2 linked regions of the Homo sapiens genome follow. The protein of the gene in region 1 purifies or fractionates together with the protein of each later gene. This does not show direct contact. Each region holds a gene or a part of one and is shown in the gene's direction. Other genes may lie near its edges.

Region 1 (2,853 bases):
TTTAGTAGAAACAGGGTTTTGCCAAGTTGGCCAGGCTTGTCTTGAACTCCTGACCTCAGGTGATCTGCCTGCCTCATCCTCCCAAAGTGCTGGGATTACAGGCGTGAGCCACCGTGCCTGGCCTCCTCCCATAACATTCTATGACCTAAAATTAAGATGCTTGAATGGGTATTCTTTTTTCAAACAGAAATCTTTCTTCCTCTTTAAAATGCCCACCCTCGGCCGGGCACTGTGGGAGGCTGAGGCAGGCGGATCACGTGAGGTCAGGAGTTTGAGACCAGACTAGCAAACATGGCGAAACCTCGTCTTTACTAAAAATACAAAAATTAGTTGGGCATGATGGCAGGCGCCTGCAGTCCCAGCGATTAGGGAGGCTGAGGCAGGAGAGTTGCTTTAATCGAGGTGGAAGTTGCAGTGAGCCGAGATTGCACCACTGCACCCTAGCCTGGGTGACAGAGCGAGACTCCGTCGAAAAAAAAAAAAAAAGCCCACCCCCTGGAGCAACACAGCATAAATATAACCCTCTTTAGTAAGATGGGCCTTTCACTAGCTGAAGCCAATCATTATGGCTCCCCTAAGTTTTTTATCCAGTTATCCTTTGGATAAAAATAAGTAATGCGCTCAGGGGAGATGGCGTGTTGGTTTACTCTGCCTCTTGTGCCCCCAGATGTCTACTGTTGTGGAGCTGAACGTCGGGGGTGAGTTCCACACCACCACCCTGGGTACCCTGAGGAAGTTTCCGGGCTCAAAGCTGGCAGAGATGTTCTCTAGCTTAGCCAAGGCCTCCACGGACGCGGAGGGCCGCTTCTTCATCGACCGCCCCAGCACCTATTTCAGACCCATCCTGGACTACCTGCGCACTGGGCAAGTGCCCACACAGCACATCCCTGAAGTGTACCGTGAGGCTCAGTTCTACGAAATCAAGCCTTTGGTCAAGCTGCTGGAGGACATGCCACAGATCTTTGGTGAGCAGGTGTCTCGGAAGCAGTTTTTGCTGCAAGTGCCGGGCTACAGCGAGAACCTGGAGCTCATGGTGCGCCTGGCACGTGCAGAAGCCATAACAGCACGGAAGTCCAGCGTGCTTGTGTGCCTGGTGGAAACTGAGGAGCAGGATGCATATTATTCAGAGGTCCTGTGTTTTCTGCAGGATAAGAAGATGTTCAAGTCTGTTGTCAAGTTTGGGCCCTGGAAGGCGGTCCTAGACAACAGCGACCTCATGCACTGCCTGGAGATGGACATTAAGGCCCAGGGGTACAAGGTATTCTCCAAGTTCTACCTGACGTACCCCACCAAAAGAAACGAATTCCATTTTAACATTTATTCATTCACCTTCACCTGGTGGTGATCCTCAGGAGCAGAGACTGTTATGAATTCTGGCGTGGCTTATGAAATTAAAAGTTGCCATCAAAGCCATTTTCTTTTAATTTCACAAACATCAGGCAATTTCCAGGGTTGGTCTAGAGTCTTGCCACTAAATATTGATCACTCGTTTAAGGACTTTCCACTCCATTGCAACTGATGCCACTATATTTGCCTAGCAACTTGCAGCTACTTCCTTTTCAAAGCCTCATGTATCTCCCAGACCCTTCTCTTGAAGTCCAATAACAAGACCAAGTAAGAATGTTTCAACAATGCGTTGGCAAGAGATGTGAGATGACAACAGGAACATACAAGATACTGTGAATCTAGATGTTCTGACCTAAAGATGTAGTCTACATAGCCCCAGCTTGGGGTCCAATCCATCTGTCCCTGGCATGTGCCTTCATGTAGTAGGTGCTTTCCTGATCCCCTTTGCGAGATGCTGTGGGTGCTAACACCTCAGAGCTGTCCTCTTCTCTAGAGTGGAGGTTTTCAAAGTGCATCATCAGCATTACCTGTGAACTTGCTGGAAATACAAATCCTCAGGCCCCACCTCAGACCTACTGAATCAGAATCTCTGGGGGTTGGCACAGCATTCTGATTTACCAAACCCTCCAAGTGATTTTGATGTATTCTAATTTTGAGACCATCTCTAGAAAAGAATTGCTACCTCTTGTATGGAGGTACAAAAGACTGACCTCTTACATCAAGGAACTTCCTTTCCCAGAGCTCCTCATGGAATCAAGCTGAAGTCAGTCTTCTTCTGAGAGCACATTCTTACTCAGTTTTTTTCCTCTGTCCTACGCTGCTTCCCTCACTCCCCTTCTCCTAAGAGCACTCCATCAATAAACCACTTGCACGAGAGTCTCAGTTTTGGTTCTGCTTCTCACCCTAATACAGGACTTGTCCTCTAAAGGAGGATACATGTAGACATTCATTCTTCTCCAAGTCCAGGTCTGAATTATATGACCCCCTTCCCTGCATAGTAGCTTGATCAGCTATGTGGGTTGTCTGGGACCTTCTTGGGACATAGGGTTTCTTTCTTGGGACCAAAGGGTTTCTTGGGATACAGGACTTCCAGTATGAAAACTTGGAAGTCTCATCGGGTGCAGTGGCTCACGCCTGTAATCACAGCACTTTGGGAGGCTGAGGCAGGCAGAGAACTTGAGGTCAGGGGTTCAAGACCAGCCTGGCCAACATGGTGAAACCCCATCTGTATTAGTCTGTTTTCACGCTGCTGATAAAGACATGCCTGAGACTGGGCAATTTACAAAAGAGAGAGTTTTAATGGACTTACAGTTCCACGTGGCTGGGGAAGCCTCACAATCATGGTGGAAGGTGAAAGGCATATCTCACATGACAACAGACAAGAGAGAGCAAGTGCAGGGAAACTCCCCTTTTTAAAACCATCAGATCTCATGAGACTTATTCACTATCACGAGAACAACACGGGAAAGACCTGCCCCCATGATTCAATTACCTCCCACAAGGTCC
Region 2 (3,822 bases), on another chromosome or scaffold:
ATGGCCTCCTTGGTGGGGAAGGAAGGATGTCCTGAGTTGGGAGCACAGACATCCAGGCCTCCCAGGACAGACAGACACAAACATGAACAGCAGACAGGCCAGCGTGAGCCGATTCTGCCTGGCTTAGTCGTGCATGAAAGGAACCCTAAACTGGTACAAAAGTGGACCTGCAGGCCATCCAGGGAGTGACCATCGTAAAAACACAATAGCCAGTGCCACTCTGTGTACTTCCATAGTCGACCGCGCCAGCAGGAGGCCTCGGAGGATCCTGTCCGGGCCCATAGATGTTTGCTAGCGGGACAAGCTTGGGTGAGTTGAGCATCTGACTCCGTCCTTCCTCCTGAGACACGTGCAGCGAGGGCACCCACTGTGCAGCGAGGGCTCCCGCCGTGCAGTGAGCATACCCCCTGTGCAGTGAGGGCACCTGCCGTGCAGTGAGCATACCCCCCATGCAGCAAAAGCACCCCCCATGCAGCGAGGGCTCCCGCTGTGCAGTGAGCATACCCGCTGTGCAGTGAGGGCACCTGCCGTGCAGGGCTGCTTCAGGGTTTGGCACCATAATGCCTGGATGTGCTCCGTGGCTTCCTCCTTGGTGCCTGTGTTTGGTGGCTGGAAGGCCCAGCACCCTCAGGGCCCAGAACCCTCAGGGAAGTGCCTGGGCATCTGCCAGGAATTAACCCACTGGGTCCCACTTGTCTCAAAGCCTGGCTTGGTAGGATGGCCTGAACTTTGGATGTTTTTCATGCCTTTCGTTACATAGGATCCTCTTGCTGAGGGTGGATCATGCCCTCCACATTGCAAAAGCATCAGAGACCCAGCCCACCCTCGCGTCTGCAGCGGGAAGATGGGCCTGGTGCCAGGCGCGGGCAGCCGCCCCTCCCAGCGTCGGGAAGATGGGCCTCATGCCAGGCATGGGCAGCTGCCCCTCCCAGCGTCGGGAAGATGGGCCTCCGGGTGGTTTTGCGACTCAGTCATCTGCGAATTTCCGGATGCTGCACAGAAGGGGGTGCCAAAGTTTTTTTAAGATGATGTAAAAAAAGCATAAATTTGATAAAAATTATGTCCATTAACCTCATAAGTTTCTACCCATCGGGAAGGATCATCCTTCTGTTTTCAGCAGCAGAAAACTGACCACAGTAGGGGGTTGTCTGTCACTGAGTCCTCAGCTCTGGTGGGAGGGCAGGGTCAGAGCTGGGCAGGGTGGCCAGCTCGGGGATCTGAGCATCTGGGAGCAGGAGGTGGAGGGCCAGGTGAGCACACAGCTGCGAGGAGGTGGAGGACCAGGTGAGCACACAGCTACAGCTACAGGGAGGCTCTGCGCCTGCAGGACAGGTTATTACAGGGGCCGCAGCAGGGCCTGGGCCGCCTCCACTCTGTTGGCTGGGGTTCAGGGGTCCCAGGTCGCCAGGAGCACCTTGCATGTGGCTCGGGATGCACGGAGTCTCCCGTGAGGTGTGGGTTTCTTAGGACCCCAGGGCAGGTGTCCCATGGGAGTATGAACTAAATGCCTTTGTGGACGTTTAGACGTGAAATGTCTGCTCTAGACTCACACACCTGTCTCGCTCCCTCCTTCCAGAACTCTTAAAACGCCTAGATGACGTGTCCAACGATGTGAGGATGGCAGCCGCCTCCACCTTGGTCACCTGGCTGCAGTGTGTCAAGGGTGCCAACGCAAAATCCTACTATCAGAGCAGTGTCCAGTACCTGTACCGAGAGTTGCTGGTTCACCTTGACGATCCAGAGAGGGCCATCCAGGATGCAATTTTAGGTGAGACTCCGACGGCTTGGCCTTCGTTCCGATGCCTGCTTTCGGCGCCTGCCACGGGCATCTGTAGCTGAGCCGTGTGACCGGCCACAGGGCCCTGGGGCACAGGAGGGGCCTCAGCTCCGGCCTGGCACACTCTTGAGTTCTTGGCAAACCCTGAGAGCGGCTGTCTTTGTGGTGATAGCTGCTGACATTTCCTCTAACAGAAATCAAAACTGAGAGTATTCTAGAATACTTGTTAGTTGTTTAAAATAACAATAGTAAGCCCAGTATATATTGACACAGATGGCTTGTGTTTTTGAAAAATACTTTCCAAAACAAAATCATCTGCAAGAACGATTTTTGCAAATGTCTTAAATGTGTAGCTTGATGGAAGACACTGGACTTTCACATCTTCCATACAGTCAGTCATGATGTGTATGGCTCTGGCTGAAATACGTGGAAAATAATCTGGCCTCGCCTGTGGCTTCAAGTGTAGTTGGACAAAAGAAGAGTATTTTAGTAGCCTTTTCAGATAGGCGTGGGACTTCTTCAATACCACGCCAACAGCGACACAGGCCGTCCCTTGAAGGTCACTCACAGCACAGGGCCTGAGGCCACACACCACAGAGCCTTCCACGCTCAGTGCATTAAAATCCGCTGGTCCATCTCACACTTGGAATGTAACGATTTGCTTTTTTTTTTCTTTTTTTTTTTTTTGTTTTGTTTTGTTGTTGGTGAATATAATGACGTTGTTCTTTTTTTTAATAAAATTTGTATTTTTAATTTTTGTGGGTACACATAGGTGTATATAAGGCATGTGTGATACTGTGATACAGGCATGCAGTGTGTGTAAATCACATTGGGGAAATGGGGTCCCCGTCACTTCAAACACTTACACTTTCTTTGTGTTACAAATAATTCAGTGATACTTTTCGTTATGTTTAAATGTGTGATAAATTATTGTTGACCATAGTCACCCTGTTGTGCTATCAAATACTAAATCTTACTCATTCTGTTTTTGTACTCATTAACCATCCCCACCTCTTCCCCCGGCCCCATTCCTCTTCCGAGCCTCTGGGAGCCATCCTTCTGCTCTATCTCCATGAGTTGAATTATTTTTATTTTTAGTTCCCACAAATGAGAATGTGCGGAATTTGCCCTTCTGTGCCTGACTTATTTCACTTAACATAGCGACCTCCACTTCCCTCCATGTTGATCCAATGACTGGATCTCATTTCTTTTGTGGCCGGATAATATTCCACTGCGTGCGCTCCACGTTTTCCTTCTCCCTTCATCTGTCCGTGGACACCCCGGTTGCTTCCACACCTTGGCTGTCGGAACAGTGGGGCATTCGGCGTGCGCGTGCAGCTCTCCCCCATAGCTGAATTCCTCTCTTTTGGGTATTTGCCCAGAAGTGGGATTGCCGGGCTGTATGGGGCTCTATTTTTAGTTTTGGAGGGACCTCCAGACTGTTCTCCCAGCGGTGCTCATTTACATTCCCACCAGCAGCGTGAGGGTTCCCTTGTCTCCACATCCGCGCCGGGACTTGTTTCCGCAGCCATTTTAACTGGGGTCAGAGGATGTCTCACTTGTTTCTATGTGCATTTCTCTGAGGAGCGGTGGTGGTGGGCACCTTTTCAGACGCCTGTTTGTCATTTCCATGCTGTCTTTTGAGAGCTGTCTGTTCAGGTCTTTTACCCATTTTTAATTGGATTATTAGATTGTCTGCTATTGAGCCTGAGCTCCTCATATATTCCAGTGATTAATCCTTGTCAGGCGGCGGTTCTAAGATACAGTCTCCCATCCCGTACCCGCGGGCTGTCCCTGCGGCTGTACTCTGCTCATTCTTCCCTTTGCTGTGTGGAAGCTTTGGGCCTGGATGTGCTGACTTTGCCTTTTGCCTCCTTTGGAAAATACTTAGACCTTCCCCGCGCAGCTGCGTCCGGTTTCCCGGCGTGGCTACATCCGGTTATGCGATGTCGGATCTTCCTGGTGTGGCCGCCTCCCGTCGCGCAGCGTCAGAAACTCGGATCTTCGCGGCGTGGCCGCCTCCCGACACGCGGCGTCAGAAACTC

The links.
Region 2: the proteins of KCTD14 (region 1) and DNAAF5 purify together in Homo sapiens (affinity purification with mass spectrometry; one large-scale study listed by BioGRID and IntAct). This does not show direct contact.

Annotation. Positions count from the first base shown.
Region 1 is NC_000011.10:78,015,085-78,017,937, reverse strand, and holds the end of KCTD14 (BTB/POZ domain-containing protein KCTD14), read left to right. Parts: intron 1-667; coding exon 668-1,345; 3' UTR 1,346-2,223; downstream 2,224-2,853.
Region 2 is NC_000007.14:778,377-782,198, forward strand, and holds part of DNAAF5 (dynein axonemal assembly factor 5), read left to right. Parts: intron 1-1,576; coding exon 1,577-1,768; intron 1,769-3,822. UniProt on the Homo sapiens protein: Cytoplasmic protein involved in the delivery of the dynein machinery to the motile cilium.